Linked DNA regions of Homo sapiens: region 2 is linked to region 1. Evidence: fine-mapped expression QTL. Tissue or cell type: whole blood. Region 1 holds a variant in brackets; the other region holds the start of a gene. All regions are shown on one strand. Distances are from middle to middle.

What was found. PIP is the estimated chance that this variant, and not a neighbour inherited with it, causes the effect.
Region 2: FCGRT starts here. The variant in region 1 is fine-mapped to the expression of FCGRT in whole blood (TOPMed, PIP above 0.99).

The regions. Positions count from the first base shown.
Region 1 is chr19:49,538,337-49,546,336 of GRCh38, forward strand. It overlaps RCN3 (reticulocalbin 3), which reads left to right. Exons shown (of 7, transcript NM_020650.3): 5 at 783-843; 6 at 4,217-4,416; 7 at 4,770-5,297. The coding sequence ends at 4,877. Among named protein-coding and RNA genes, the nearest start is that of RCN3, 14 kb to the left of the region's middle. The variant T/C (reference allele first, on the strand shown) is at 4,323.
Region 2 is chr19:49,508,361-49,516,360 of GRCh38, forward strand. It overlaps FCGRT (Fc gamma receptor and transporter), which reads left to right and starts at 4,301. Exons shown (of 7, transcript NM_001136019.3): 1 at 4,301-4,390; 2 at 5,027-5,113; 3 at 5,522-5,773; 4 at 5,851-6,126. The coding sequence starts at 5,041. RefSeq lists enhancers at 3,321-3,883, 5,811-6,524.

The sequences.
Region 1 (8,000 bases):
TTTTTTTTTTTTAGTAGAGACGGGGTTTCACTGTGTTAGCCAGGATGGTCTCGATCTCCTGACCTCGTGATCCACCCACCTCGGCCTTCCAAAGTGCTGGGATTACAGTTGTGAGCCACCACGCCCGGCCATGCCTGGCTAATTTTTAAATTTTGTGTAGAGACAGGGTCTCGCCATGTTGCCCAGGCTAGTCTCAAAATCCTGGGCTCAATCGATCCTCCCGCCTCGGCCTCCCAAAGTGCTGGGATTACAGGTGTGAGCCACCGTGCCCAGCCCACAGTCTTATAGTGAATGAGTTTGGATATAAATTGGGGAACAAAAGTCGTTTTGCTCCAGAAGGGCACAAAAACAAGGAGCGGAGGTGTCCAGTGTGTCAGAAGAAGCCCCAAAGTGCACCATGTTCACACATAAAGCAGAGGTAGGTTCTAGGCTCTGCTAAACATAAAGGAGCTTCTCCCCTTGGAGGGTGTTTGCTGGGGCTTGAGCAAGTTATTAGGGACCCAGGACAGCTCCCCTTGTGAGCAACAAACCTGTGCACTGCTGGACATTAGGGCCTCTGGGCTCTGGCCCCGTAAATGCAGGTGGTGCCTGTTTGATGATAACATCCCAGAAAGCCCGCAAATTTCCCACATGCCACCTGTTGAGACTGCTCTACTGCCTGCCTCCCACAGCTGCCCGGAGCTAAATTTCCAAGAGAACCTCTCACTCTTACCCCAGGGGTCCAGCCTCCCCCAGGAGCCAGGGTCATCGGCCCCCAGCCTCAATGCCCCTTTCTCCTCCAGGAAACCCTGGAGGACCTGGACAGAAACAAAGATGGCTATGTCCAGGTGGAGGAGTACATCGGTGAGTGGGCCCCAATTTCTTCTTGGGATGCCTGTCCTCTCTCAGGCATGGGCAGGGTTGGTGGGGGTAGCCGGAGGTACATCACCCATCATCAGAGAACAGTGGCCCTCAGACATGGGGGCAGGGGCACTCACTGCTTGAGTTCATTTAGCCACCCAACATTTATTGAGCACCTACTCTATACCAGACACAAAAAGCATCTATTGAGCACCTGCTGTGTGTCACGCCCAGGATACACTTACTGAGCACCTACTGCATATGGGTGGTTGCGCCTACAGCAGACAATAACACAGACAAATCCCTTCTTGGGGGTCTGGAGTTTCTACAAAATCAAGGCTCAGGGGCTATGTTTAGTTGAGAATGGGGGTCAGGAAGCTGGTCTTGAACCTGCGCCTGCACAGCAAACACTGTTTCCTGTTACATGGGATGTTGGGGGATCCTCACAATACCCCCTGAGTTCTGAGTTCTCCCTGGGCCCCTGCCACTGTCCCTGCCCCTAGCGGGCAAAAAATTTAGTCAAGGAGAACGCTAACAAGGAATTTTTTTTTTTTTTTTTTTTTTTTGAGACAGTTTTTTTCTGTTGCTCAGGCTGGAGCGCGGTGGCGTGGTATCGGCTCTCTGCAACCTCCGCCTCCCGGGCTCAAGAGATTCTTCTGCCTCAGCCTCCTGAGTAGCTGGGATTACTGGTGCCTGCCACCACGCCTGGCTAATTTTTGTATTTTTAGTGGAGATGGGATTTCACCATGTTGGCCAGGCTGGTCTAGAACTCCCAACCTCAGGTGATCTGCTCATCTTGGCCTCCCAAAGTGGTGGGATTACAGGCGTGAGCAACCACGCCCGGCCAGGAATTTTTTTTTAAGTTTGAAAACATTGTTTATTCTTTTATTTTTTTCTGACCACATCCTACATGAGAAAACATTTTTCTTTCTTTCCTTCTCTCACTTTCTTTCTTTCTGTCACTCTTTCTTTCTATCTGTCTGTCTGTGTGTGTGTGTGTCTCTCTCTTTATTAAATAGAGATGGGTTCTCACTATATTGTCCAGGCTGGTCTAGAACTCCTGGGCTCAAGCAATCTTCCCACCTTGGCCTCCCAAAGAGCTGAGATTACAGGCATGAATCACCACACCTGGCTGAGAGAACATTTTTATATTTTTTTCTTAAGAGATGGGGTTGGGCCAGGCGCAGTGGCTCATACCTGTAATCCCAGCACTTTGGGAGGCTGAGATGGATGGATCATGAAGTCAGGAGTTCGAGACCAGCCTGGCCAAGATGGTGTACTAAAAATACAAAAATTAGCCGGGCCTGTTGGCAGGAGCCTGTAATCCCAGTTACTCTGGGGACTGAGGCAAGAGAATCTCTGGAACCCGGGAGGCAAAGGTTGCAGTGAGCTGTAATCGCGCCATTGCACTTCAGTCTGGGCAACAAGAGCGAAACTCCATCTTAAAAAAAAAAAAAAAAGATGGGGTCTTGCCCTGTCGCCCAGGCTGGAGTGCAGTGGGGTGATCTTGGCTCACTGCAGCCTTGACCTCCTGGGCTCAAGGGATCCTCCCACCTCAGCCTCCCAAGTAGCTGAGACTCCAGGCACAGTGCGGCCTCTGGAGATACTTCTGGTTGTCACTTCTAGAGGGGTGAGGATGCTACTGACGTCTCCTGGATAGAGCCCAGAGATGCTCCTTAGCATTCTCCGGTGCACAGGACAGGCCCTGACAACAAGGAGGTCACAGGCCCCAGATGCCAGCAGCTGTCCCCATCTCTTTTTTTTTTTTTTTGAGACAGAGTCTCGCTATTGTCGCCCAGGCTGGAGTGCAGTGGCATGATCTCGGCTCACTGCAACCTCCGCCTCCCAGGTTCAAGCAATTCTCTTGTTTCAGCCTCCTGAGTAGGTGGGATTATGGGCGTGCACTACCACGCCTGGCTAATTTTGTATTTTTAGTAGAGACGGGGTTTCACCATTTTGGTCAGGCTGGTCTTGAACTCTTGACCTCAGGTTATCCACCTGCCTCGGCCTCCCAAAGTGCTGGGATTACAGGCGCGAACCACCGCACCCAGCCTATCTTCTCAATTACTTCATCCCATTAAGACTTCATCTTCCATTCCTCAGCTCTACCAGGCAGACACTGTCACTATCCTCCATTATATAGATGACACCTGAGGCCCAGGGGGGTTGAAGGGATCTGCTGAAGACAATGGGAAGAGGCAGGGCTAGGATTTGAACCTTGGTGTTTGGGCTCTGGCACCTATTTCTTAACTCCTCCCCAACCAGTAACATATCAAAATGTATAAAATTGGGGTGGGTGCCATGGCTCACGCCTGTATTCCCAGCACTTTAGGAGGCCAAGGTGGGTGGATCACTTGAGGTCAAGAGTTCAAGACCAGCCTGGCCAACATGATGAAACCCTGTCTCTACTAAAACTAGAAAAATTAGCTGGGCGTGGTGGCGGGTACCTGTAATCCCAGCTACTTGGGAGGCTGAGGCAGGAGAATCACTTGAACCCAGAAGGTGCAGGTTGCAGTGAGCTGAGATTGTGTCACTGCACTCCAGCCTGTAATCCCAGCACTTTGGGAGACTGAGGCAGGTGGATCATGGGGTCAGGAGTTTGAGAGCAGCCTGGCCAAGATGGTGAAACCCCGCCTCTACTAAAAATATAAAAATTAGCTGGGTGTGGTGGCACGCACCTGTAATCCCAGCTACTTGGGAGGCTGAGGCAGGAGAATCGCTTGAACCTGGGAGGCAGAGGTTGCAGTGAGCTGAGATTGCGCCATTGCACTACAGCCTGGGCAACAAGAGCGAAACTCCATCTTAAAAAAAAAAAGGGGGTGGGGTCTTGCCCTGTTGCCCAGGCTGGAGTGCAGTGGGGTAATCACAGCGAGACTCCATCTCAAAAAAAAAAAAAAAAATTTGTAGAAACAGGGTCTTGCTATGTTGCCCAGGTTGGTCTTGAATCTTGGCCTCAAATGACCCTCCTGCCTGGGTCTCCCAAAGTGTTGGATTACAGTCATCACTGCACCTGGCATCTCTGTCACCTGCTAACTGGCCAGAAACATCCTCGCACGTTCCTCCTGCATAGACATTGCTTACTATGTGCCAGGCACTGCCTTGCCCATTGCACACACTACTTCACGTGTGTGTCAATGAAATCAATCAATCATGCAATCAACCAATCAAATGAATTTCACCTGTAACACAAATGATTGCTTATAAGTCAGGTTTTGTTACTAATTCCATCGAAACAGAAGAGGACGCTGAGGCGAGAGAGAGGGTAGTGAGTTGCTCAAGGGCCTGGTTCAGGAAGTATCAGAGCCAGGATCAGCCCCCAGCTCCACTAGACCCCCAGAGCTGCCCCTGACCTTGTCCCCTCTGTCCCGGCCCCCAGCGGATCTGTACTCAGCCGAGCCTGGGGAGGAGGAGCCGGCGTGGGTGCAGACGGAGAGGCAGCAGTTCCGGGACTTCCGGGATCTGAACAAGGATGGGCACCTGGA[T/C]GGGAGTGAGGTGGGCCACTGGGTGCTGCCCCCTGCCCAGGACCAGCCCCTGGTGGAAGCCAACCACCTGCTGCACGAGAGCGACACGGACAAGGTGCAGTGACGGGGCCTCGGCAGGAGCGAGGAGCGGGTGGGCATTGCGGGCCAGACTCCAGAAAGGAGCAAGACCTGGGCCTGGAGCTCAGGGTCCCTTTTAGGTGGGATAAAAAAAGAGGGACAGAGAGAGGGAGGAAAAGAGAGGGCACGGAGCCCCAGAAAGAGAGGGGGACAGAGACCCAGAGACCCAAAGAGAGAAGGACAGGGACCAAGACGGGGACAGATTCAGAGAGAAAGGGACAGAGGCCCAGAGAACAAGGGTCCCAGAGACTTCGGGACACGCTTGGATGCAGGGAGGGCTTTTGAAAGCAGGGCCGTGTTGTCCCCTCTGAACCCTGACCCTCCCTCCAGGATGGGCGGCTGAGCAAAGCGGAAATCCTGGGTAATTGGAACATGTTTGTGGGCAGTCAGGCCACCAACTATGGCGAGGACCTGACCCGGCACCACGATGAGCTGTGAGCACCGCGCACCTGCCACAGCCTCAGAGGCCCGCACAATGACCGGAGGAGGGGCCGCTGTGGTCTGGCCCCCTCCCTGTCCAGGCCCCGCAGGAGGCAGATGCAGTCCCAGGCATCCTCCTGCCCCTGGGCTCTCAGGGACCCCCTGGGTCGGCTTCTGTCCCTGTCACACCCCCAACCCCAGGGAGGGGCTGTCATAGTCCCAGAGGATAAGCAATACCTATTTCTGACTGAGTCTCCCAGCCCAGACCCAGGGACCCTTGGCCCCAAGCTCAGCTCTAAGAACCGCCCCAACCCCTCCAGCTCCAAATCTGAGCCTCCACCACATAGACTGAAACTCCCCTGGCCCCAGCCCTCTCCTGCCTGGCCTGGCCTGGGACACCTCCTCTCTGCCAGGAGGCAATAAAAGCCAGCGCCGGGACCTTGTGTGTCTGTCTGTTGTCTGCCTGTCTCTATGAAGGGTAAGGGGGCCCTGGAGATGGTTTGGGGGCTGTGACTGGGAGTTGGGGGCTGAGACATGCAATAGGGGACCAGGCATTTGAAGGAGGGGTGCTGGGTGTTGGAGGGATTGGAGGGCGTTCCTCAGTATAAAACAAACAAACAAAAAAAATTGGGCCAGGCCCGGTGGCTCACGCCTGTAAGCCCAGCAATTTGGGAGGCTGAGGCGGGTAGATCACGAGGTCGGGGGTCCTAGACCAGCCTGGCCAACATGGTGAAACCCCGTCTCTACTAGAAATACAAAAATTAACCAGGCCTGGTGATGGGCACCTATAATCCCAGCTACTCTGGAGGCTGAAGCAGAATCGCTTGAACCCGGGAGGTGGAGGTTGTCGTGAGCCGAAATGGCGCCACTGCACTCCAGCCTGGGTGACAGAGGGAGACTCTGTCTCAAAAAAAAAAGGGAAAAAAAGCCTGGACTCTGCAGCGCACAAACCAGACAGGAAGCCCTGCCCTCTCAGAGCTCCAGTTCTGTAAGGAAGAGACACAGCGACCTAAAATATGGCACGGCGCAACAGATGCTGTGAAGCAGGGGAAGCGTGTAGCAGTGTGGCAATGTTCTGATGACTGAGAGGCTGGGAAAGGTCTCAATGGTAAATGGAGTGAAGGAGGGAGCCACGGAGAGATCTGGAGGGAGAGCATTCCAGGGAGAGAGAAGAGCAAGTAAAATGGCCCTGAGGCAGGAGTGGGCCTGGTGTGGCAGCATCAGCAAGGAGGCTAGAGTGGCTGGAAGGGAATGAGCCAGTGGAAGAGGGTCAGAGCTGAGAGCAGATGGGGCAAGTGGCCAGACTGTGCAGGCCCCTGCAGGCAGGTCATGGTGGTCCCTGTTTGGTGGCACAAGACAGGGATGGACAGAGACCCAGAGAGAAGGGGTGGGGAGTCAGAGAGAGAGGGACAGAGACCCAGAGAGAGAGGGGAACAGAGACCCAGAGAGAGAGGGACAGAGACCCAGAGAGAGAGGGGAACAGAGACCCAGAGAGAGAGGGGAACAGAGACCCAGAGAGAGAGAGGGGAACAGAGACCCAGAGAGAGGGAGACAGAAACTCAGAGAGAGGGAAACAGAGACCCAGAGAGTGGGGGACAGAGATCCAAAGAGAATGGGGATAGAGACCCAGAGAGACACAGAATTTATTCTGAGTGACATGAGAGTCGCTGGAGTGTCATGAGCAGAGGAGGGATTATAAACTGCTTTGAGTTATTTAAGAGTCGGGTTGGGCGCAGTGGTTCACGCCTGTAATCCCAAGGATTAATCAAGGATTGCTTGAGGCCAGGAGTTCAAGACCAGTCTGGGATGATCTTTTATAAAGATGGCATCTCTTTTTTTTTTTCTTTCTTTTTTTTTGAGACGGAGTCTCGCTCTGTCGCCCAGGCTGGAGTGCAGTGGCGCACTCTCACCTCACTGCAAGCTCCACCTCCCGGGCTCACGCCATTTATAGAGACCATATCTCTATTTAAAAATTAGTTTATGGCCGGGCACGGTGGTTCACGCCTGTAATCCCAGCTCTTTCAGAGGCCGAGGCAGGCAGATCACGAGGTCAGTAGATCGAGACCATCCTGGCTAACACGGTGAAACCCCGCCTCTACTAAAAAATACAAAAAATTAGCCAGGCATGGTGGCGGGCGCCTGTAGTCCCAGCTACTCGGGAGGCTGAGGCAGGAGAATGGCCTGAACCCGGGAGGCGGAGCTTGTAGTGAGCCGAGATCGCGCCACTGCACTCCAGCCTGGGAGACAGAGCGAGACTCTGTCTCAAAAAAAAAAATTAACTTACTAAAAAAATTAATTTACTAATTAATTTTTAAAAAGGAAATTCAAGAACAGGCAAAACTAATCTGGGGGTTAGAACTCAGGATGTTGTTCACCCTTGCGGGGGAGGGACCAGAATGGACCTCATGGGCTTCTTATCGGGAGAGGGAGGCTGGAAAATAGCCTATTCTTGATCTAGGTACTGCTTCCCAGGGGTGGTCAGATTATGAAAATTCATTCAGTTCTCCACATGTGATGTATGCCCTTTTATGCATGATAGAATTCAATTCAAAATTTACTTTTTTTTTTTTTTTTTTTTTGAGACAGAGTTTTGCTCTTGTTGCCCAGGCTGGAGTGCAATGGCACAATCTCGGCTCACTGCAACCTCCACCTCCCAGGTTCAAGCGATTCTCCTGCCTCAGCCTCCTGAGTAGCTGGGATTACAGGCATGCACCACCACGCCTGGCTAATTTTGTATTTTTAGTAGAGACAGGGTTTCTCCATGTTGGTCAGGCTGGTATCGAACTCCTGACCTCAGGTGATCCACCTGCCTCAGCCTCCCAAAGTGCTGGGATTACAGGCTTGAGCCATTGTGCCTGGCCGATAGCTATTTTTTTTTTTTTTTTTTTTTTTTTTTTTTGAGATGGAGTCTTGCTCTTGTCATCCTGGCTGGAGTGCAATGGCATGATCTTGACTCACTGCAACCTCCACCTCCCGGGCTGAAGTGATTCTCCTGTCTCAGCCTCCCGAGTAGCTGGGATTACTGGCATGGACCACCACGCCCGGCTAATTTTTGTATTTTTATTAGAGACGGGGTTTCACCATGTTGGCCAGGCTGGTCTCGAACTCCCGACCTCAGGTGATCCGCCCTCCCCGACCTCC
Region 2 (8,000 bases), 30 kb before region 1:
AGCCCTAAACATAATCACAGGACTCCTTTGGAGAGGGAGGCAGGCGGGTTGGTGTCGGAGAGAGAAGACGTGAGGACCGACATATGGGTCAGAGAGGGGAGAGGATGCCGTGCTGCTGGCCTTGAAGATGGAGGACTGGGCCATGAGCCAAGGAATGCTGGTAGCTTCTAGAAGCTGGGAAAGGCAAAAACACCGATTCTTCCCTGGAGCCTCCAGAAAGAACACAAAATTGTTGGGTGCGGTGGTTCACGCCTGTAATCCCAACACTTTGGGAGGCCGAGGCGGGTGGATCACGAGGTCAGGAGTTCGAGACCAGCCTGGCCAATATGGTGAAACGCCGTCTCTACTAAAAATACAAAAATTAGCCGGGTGTGGTGGCGGGTGCCTGTAATCCCAGCTACTCAGGAGGCTGAGGCAGGAGAATCTCTTGAACCCGGGAGGCGGAGGTTGCAGTGAGCCGAGTTCGCACCAGTGCACTCCAAGCTGGGCAACAGAGCCAGACTCCATCTAAAAAAAAAAAAAAAAAGGAACACAAAACCTGTGAGTATCATAGGTGGTCCAAGGAGCTTTACGAATGTCCTGGTAATGTTACAGCAGGGCCCTGGGGGTGGGGACGTGAGAGCTAAGGCTGGGTTATAGAGGACCCCACAGTGATGGTAGTCAGACTTCCAGGAAAAGCATAGCAGGCTCCTGAGGGACACTGTAACAGGGCATTGAGGATTCTGTCAGGGTCCAAGGAACCTTAAAATGGGGCCCAGGGGCTGCTGGAATAGTGTCCTGAAGACATTACATGATCCCAAGGAAACTAGAGGGGACAGCTAAGGACAGGGCAGTTGCCTCAGGGTATTTTGGGGAAGAGCTGAGGGTGCTGTAATTAGGATTCTTAAGAAATTAAAGCAGGTGGCCAGGCGCAGTGGCTCACACCTGTAATTCCCAGCACTTTGGGAGGCCGAGTCGGGCGGATCACGAGGTCAGGAGATCGAGACCATCCTGGCTAACACGGTGAAACCCTGTCTCTACTAAAAATATAAAAATTAGCCAGGCGTGGTGGCAGGCTCACGTAGTCCCAGTTACTCGGGAGGCTGAGGCAGGAGAATGGCGTGAACCTGGGAGGCGCAGCTTGCAGTGAGCCGAGACTGCACCACTGCCCTCCAGCCTGGGCGACAGAGCAAGACTCTGTCTCAAAAAATAAAAAAAAGAAAAGAAAAGAAGAAAAGAAGAAGTTAAAGCAGGTTCTTTCTGTCTCTTAGGAGTGGACCTTGGGATGGGTGTCACTGGATCTCCCTTCTAGTAGGACACAGGGAGAATCAGGTAGGACACAGTAGGACACAGGCAGAATGAGAAAAATGAAGACATTCTGGACAAGGAGAACAGAGATTTACCTGGTTAATTTTATGTGTCAATTTGGCTGAGCCACAGTGAGTGAAGAGATATTCGGTCAACATTATTCTGGATGTCTCTATGAGGGTGTTTTAGGATGAGATTTACATATATATTTGTGAGACAGGGTCTTGCTGCTGCCCAGGCTGGAGTGCAGTGGCGCCATCACGGCTCACTGCAGCCTCCAACTCTTGGGCTCAAGGGGTCCCCCAGCTTCAGCCTCTTGAGTAGCTGGGACCACAAGTGCGCACCACCACACCCGGCTAATATTTTAATTTTTTGTAGAGATAAGCTCTCTCTGTTACTCAGGCTGGTCCTTGAACTCAAGCGATCCTCCTGCCTTGGCCTACCAAAGTGCTGGGATTACAGGCATGAGCCACTGTGCCCAGCTGAGATTTATGTTTAGATTGTTAGGCTTTGAGTAAAGGAGGTTCCCCTTCCTGAATTGAGGGAGGCTCATCCAACCACTTGAAACCCTGAATAGAAGAAAAGTCTCGGCTGGGTGCGGTGGCTCACGCCTATAATCCCAGCACTTTGGAAGGCTGAGGCGGGCAGATCACGAGGTCAAGAGATCGAGGCCATCCTGGCCAACATGGTGAAATCCCCGTCTCTACTAAAAATACAAAAATTAACCGGGTGTGGTGGCAGGTGCCTGTAATCCCAGCTACTTGGGAGGCTGAGGCAGGAGAATCGCTTGAACCCGGGAGGCGGAGGTTGCAGTGAGCCAAGATCGGGCCATTGCGCTCCAGCCTGATGGCAGAGCGAGACTGCGTCTCAAAAAAAAAAAAAAGAAGAAAAGTCTGCCCAGAGGGAGAGGGAGTCCTGCTAGGCAATTGTGTCTCCCACCTGCTGGCTCCCCCATTAGACTTTGGGGTTTCTTTCTTTCTTTCTTTCTTTTTTTTGAGATGGAGTCTTGCTCTGTCGCCCAGGCTGGAGGGCAGTGGCGGGATCTCAGCTCACTGCAAGCTCCGCCTCCCGGGTTCACGCCATTCTCTTGCCTCAGCCTCCTGAGTAACTGGGACTACAGGCGCCTGCCACCATGCCTCGCTAATTTTTTTATATTTTTAGTAGGGATGGGGTTTCACCATGACCTCGTGATCTGCCCGCCTTGGCCTCCCAAAGTGCTGGGATTACAGGCTTGAGCCACCGCGTCCAACATTTTTGAAATTTTTTTTAAAAATAGAGACAGGGTCTCCCTATGTTGGCCAGGTTGGTCTCAAACTCCTGGACTCAAGCGATCCTCCCAACTTGGCCTCCCAAAGTGCTGGGATGACAGGCATGCACCACCACACCTGGCCCCCGCATCAGACTCTGAACCAGCTGAACGTCCACTAATCCTGGAAGCCAATTCCTCAAATGAATCTCTTTCTGTGTATGCATATACACATTCTGTGGATTCTGTTTCTCTAGAGAACCTGAACTACCTGACCAGCAGTTCCACTCCCAGATGTATGCTCAATAGAGCTGAAAACAGGCCAGGCATGGGTGTCTTGCACCTGTCATCCCAGTGCTTTGGGAGGCCAAGGTGGGAGGCTGTCTTGAGCCCAGCAGTTTGAGACCAGCCTGGGAAACATAGCAAGACACTATCTCTGCAAAAATACAAAAATTAGCTGGGCCTGGTGGCAAGTGTGTGTAATTCCAGCTCCTTGAGAGGCTAAGGCAGGTGGAGTGCTTGAGCTTGGGAGGTTGAGGCTGCAGTGAGCCATGATCGCTCCACGGCATTCTAGCTTGAGTGACAGAGCCAGACCCTGTCAAAAAAAAGGAAAGGAAGGAAGGAAGGAAGGAAGGAAGGAAGGAAGGAAGGAAGGAAGGAAGGAGGCAAGGAAGGAAGGAGGCAAGGAAGGAAGGAAGGAAGGAGGCAAGGAAGGAAGGAAGGAAAGACTTCATATTATATGATTCAATTTCTTTGAAATGTGCAGAATAGGCAAATCTATCAAGACAGAAAGCAGATGAATGGTTGCCAGGGGTCTGGGAGCAGCGGCTGTTTAACGGGGACAGACCTTCTGTTTGGGGTGATAAAAAAGCTCTGGAACTCGGATAGAGGTGACAGTTGCACAGCACTGTAAATGTGTTAAATGACAGTAAGGGTAAATATTTTGAATATTTTACCACAATGAAATAAGTGTATGGGAAGCTTTGTAGCAGGAGTGTGGGCGGGGGCTGGTGCCTGGAGGGGCCTTCGAGTGAGGCAGCATTGTATGGGGACCATGTGGTCACTGAAGTCCTAGCAGAAGGATGTGGTTTTTTTTTTTTTTTGAGACGGAGTCTCGCTCTGTTGCCAGTCTGGAGTGCAGTGGTGCAATCTCGGCTCACTGCGACCTCCACCTCCCGGGTTCAAGCAATTCTCCTGTCTCAGCCTCCCGAGTAGCTGGGACCACAGGCCCACCACCACGCTCAGCTAATTTTTGTATTATTAGTAGAGACGGGGGTGTCACCATATTGGCCAGGCTGGTCTCGAACTCCTGACCTCGTGATCCGCCCGCCTTGGCCTCCCAAAGTGCTGGGATTACAGGCGTGAGTCACTGCGCCCGGCCCGCAGAAGGATATTAAAGAGCACCTGCAGGAATTTTTTAAGGGGATGCCGGGGGAAGGGCTTGAAGGAGGAACTAAGGAGGCTTCCAGAAGATTTTGATTAACAGCGAGCGCTAGGGAAGGCCACGGGGATACAGAGGGGTAGGAGGAGGATCCAGAGACCTCCAAGTTGTGGACTCCGGAGGCATCGAGTTCCTTTCCCAGTTTTGTCAAGAATTCCCTGAGCGGCAGACACCCTCAAAGTAAAAAACGGGAACCACAGAGAAGGAAAAAGAAGAACCACAAGCGTTTTGAGAAACAAACAGGCTGGGCCTAGGGCCTGGGGTGTGCCCTGCAACTGGGGGGTGGGGCTGGATGTTCTTGGAGTCAGGGAGCAGCAGCCTCCCACAGGATGTGAGAGAGGAACTGGGGTCTCCAGTCACGGGAGCCAGGAGCCGGCCAGGGCCGCAGGCAGGAAGGGAGCGAGGCTGAAGGGAACGTGAGCCGACCAGGGCCCGACTGAGGGAGGAGGGGCTGGGGGCCTGGAACCCTGGGTCTGAGGGAGGAGTGGCTGGGGGTCTCGACACTGGGTCTGAGGGAGGAGGGGTGGGGGCCTGGATTCCTGGGTCTGAGAGAGGAGGGACTGGGGGTCTGGACGCTGGGTCTGAGGGAGGAGGGAGGAGGGGCCGGGGGGGCCTGGACTCCTGGGTCCGAGGGAGGAGGGGTTGGGGGCCCGGACTCCTGGGTCCGAGGGTAGAGCGGTTGGGGGCCCGGACTCCTGGGTCCGAGGGTAGAGCGGTTGGGGGCCCGGACTCCTGGGTCCGAGGGAAGAGCGGTTGGGGGCCTGGACTCCGGGGTCTGAGGGAGGAGGGGCTGGGGCCTGAGGGGGGCGGAAGGGGCGTGGCGGAGCTCGGGGCCGGGACTCTCAGCCTATCAAGTGTCTGTAATTAATTAACCAACTGAGATCCAGTTCAGGGGTGAAAGTTCTTCAGGTACGAGGAGGGCATTGTTGTCAGTCTGGACCGAGCCCGCAGAGCCCCTCCTCGGCGTCCTGGTCCCGGCCGTGCCCGCGGTGTCCCGGGAGGAAGGGGCGGGCCGGGGGTCGGGAGGAGTCACGTGCCCCCTCCCGCCCCAGGTCGTCCTCTCAGCATGGGGGTCCCGCGGCCTCAGCCCTGGGCGCTGGGGCTCCTGCTCTTTCTCCTTCCTGGGAGCCTGGGCGCAGGTGAGGGCCGCTCCGGGCCAGGGCCCTGCTGCAGGCGGGCGGCGGGAGGCGGCCCCAGGCAGGCAGGGGCGAAGCCAGCGGGACCCGAGTTCCCCGCGAGCCCCTGGCGCTGCCTTCTCCGCTCAATTAACTTTCTCAACGTCTCCTGCTGGGCCTGAGGCTGGGAACCACCTGTCGCCTCTTGTGTCTGTTTCCCTCTCTCTCTCTGGGTCTCTGTCCCCCTCTCTTTCTGGGTCTCTTGTCTCTCTCTCTCTGGGTCTCTGTCCCCCCCCCCCCGGGTTTCTGTCCCCTCTCTCTGAATCTGTCCCCCTCCCTCCATAATAGATTCTTCTCCCTCCCTGGGTATCTGTCCCACTGCAGTCTAGTTCCCCGCCCGTGTGCTCCCTTCAGCTCTGTTTCTGTCTGCAGAAAGCCACCTCTCCCTCCTGTACCACCTTACCGCGGTGTCCTCGCCTGCCCCGGGGACTCCTGCCTTCTGGGTGTCCGGCTGGCTGGGCCCGCAGCAGTACCTGAGCTACAATAGCCTGCGGGGCGAGGCGGAGCCCTGTGGAGCTTGGGTCTGGGAAAACCAGGTGTCCTGGTATTGGGAGAAAGAGACCACAGATCTGAGGATCAAGGAGAAGCTCTTTCTGGAAGCTTTCAAAGCTTTGGGGGGAAAAGGTGAGATTCCGGTCTGGAGGGGCAAGGGGCCGGGTCCATGCTCCGGGGCCCCGCTTACCTGTGTTTGGGCGCCCCAGGTCCCTACACTCTGCAGGGCCTGCTGGGCTGTGAACTGGGCCCTGACAACACCTCGGTGCCCACCGCCAAGTTCGCCCTGAACGGCGAGGAGTTCATGAATTTCGACCTCAAGCAGGGCACCTGGGGTGGGGACTGGCCCGAGGCCCTGGCTATCAGTCAGCGGTGGCAGCAGCAGGACAAGGCGGCCAACAAGGAGCTCACCTTCCTGCTATTCTCCTGCCCGCACCGCCTGCGGGAGCACCTGGAGAGGGGCCGCGGAAACCTGGAGTGGAAGGGTGAGCCGGATCTGCAGCCGCAGGCTGTTCTGTCCTCTCTCCCGTCATGCCCACCTGCCTCAGTTCCCCTGCCAGGACCCTCCATCAGCCTCCCACTGCAGCCCACGCTCTGCCCCCCCATTCCTCAGGGGTCCTTCTACACTCAGCCCTCCCATGGCTCCCCAGCGCCCCCCAGGACAAACTCCTGGCTTCCTTCCTTGCCTTCTTTTTTTTTTTTTTTTTGTGAGACGGAGTTTCGCTCTTGTTGCCCAGGCTGGAGTGTAATGGCGCGATCTCGGCTCACCACAACCTCCGCCTCCCGGGTTCAAGTGATCTCCTGCCTCAGCCTCCCGAGTGGCTGGGATTACAGGCATGCACCACCATGCCCGGCTAATTTTGTATTTTTAGTAGAGACGGGGTTTCTTCATGTTGGTCAGGCTGGTCTCAAACCCCTGACCTCAGGTGATCCGCCCACCTCAGCCTCCCAAAGTGCTGGGATTACAGGCATGAGCTACTGCTCCTGGCTCCCCCCTTTTTTTTTTTTTTGAGACAGATTCTCGCTCTGTCACCCCAGGCTGGAATGTGGTGGCACCATCTCGGCTCACTGCAGCCTGAACCTCCCAGGCTCAAGCAGTCCTCCCACCTCAGCCAACCAAGTAGCTGGGACCACAGCCCAGCATCATCACACCTGGCTAACTTTATATTTTGTAGACACGGTGTCTCACTATGTTGCCCAGGCTGGTCTTGAACTCCTAGGCTCCAGCGATTCTCCTGCTTTGGTCTCCTGAGTAGCTGAGATTACAGGTGCATACCACCATAACTGGCTAATTTTTTTTTTTCCGCACAATCTCTGTTGCCCAGGCTAGTGTGAAGCAGGGTGATCTCAGCTCGCTGCAACCTCCGCCTCCTGGGTTTAAGGGATTCCGCTGCTTCAGCCTCATGAGTAGCTGGCACTATAGGCACATCCACCATGTCTGGCTAATTTTTATACTTTTAGTAGAGATGGGGTTTCGTCATGGTAGCTAGGCTGGTCTCAAACTCTTGACCTCAAGTGATCCACCCACCTCCGCCTCCCAAAGTGCTGGGATTACAGGAGTGAGCTACCGCGTCTGGCCATACCTGGCTAATTTTTAAAATTTGTTGTAGAGGTGGCATCTCACTATGCTGCCCAGGCCAGACTCAAACTCCTGGCCTCAAGTGATTCTCTCACTTTGGCCTCCCAGGGTGCTGGGATGACAGGTGTGAGCCACTGTGCTTGGCCTTCCTTGCCTTAATGTCCTCATCAGACCCACGCAGCAGCACTTGTCTCTACGCAGCCATCAGAGTCTACGCTCCAGCCACCCAACATAAGCAATCTCCTCCCTCTGGGCATTTGCTCATCCAGTTTCCCCTGGCACCTCTCTGTTCCACCCTTCCCCCTCTCTGCATATACTCCAGCCCTCCTTATTCTTCAAGGTCAGGGCTGGATATCACTTCCTCTGAGAAGCCTTTCCTCAGCTCTGTAGGGCAGAGTTCACTGTTTCCTCCCCGGAGGCCCCCAGATCCCCACTCATTCAACTGTTGGCCAAGAGCATTTGCACTGCCAGGCGCTGCTCTGGGCCTTGAGCAAAGAGGGAAGTGACACACATTCACCCTCTGTGGCTCCCAGGCTGCTGGACAAAGATAGATACCAGCTGGGGATGTGCACAGATATTCATTCCAAGTGCCACAAAGGAGAAGTTGAGACTCAACCAGGTAGTTTTTCTTTAATTGTCTTCTTTCTTTCCTAAGTAGGGAAAATTTCTTTCTTTTTTTGAGACAGAGTTTCGCTCTTGTCGCCCAGGCTGGAGTGCAATGGCGCGATCTCGGCTCACTGCAACCTCCGCCTCCCAGGTTCAAGTGATTCTCCTGCCTCA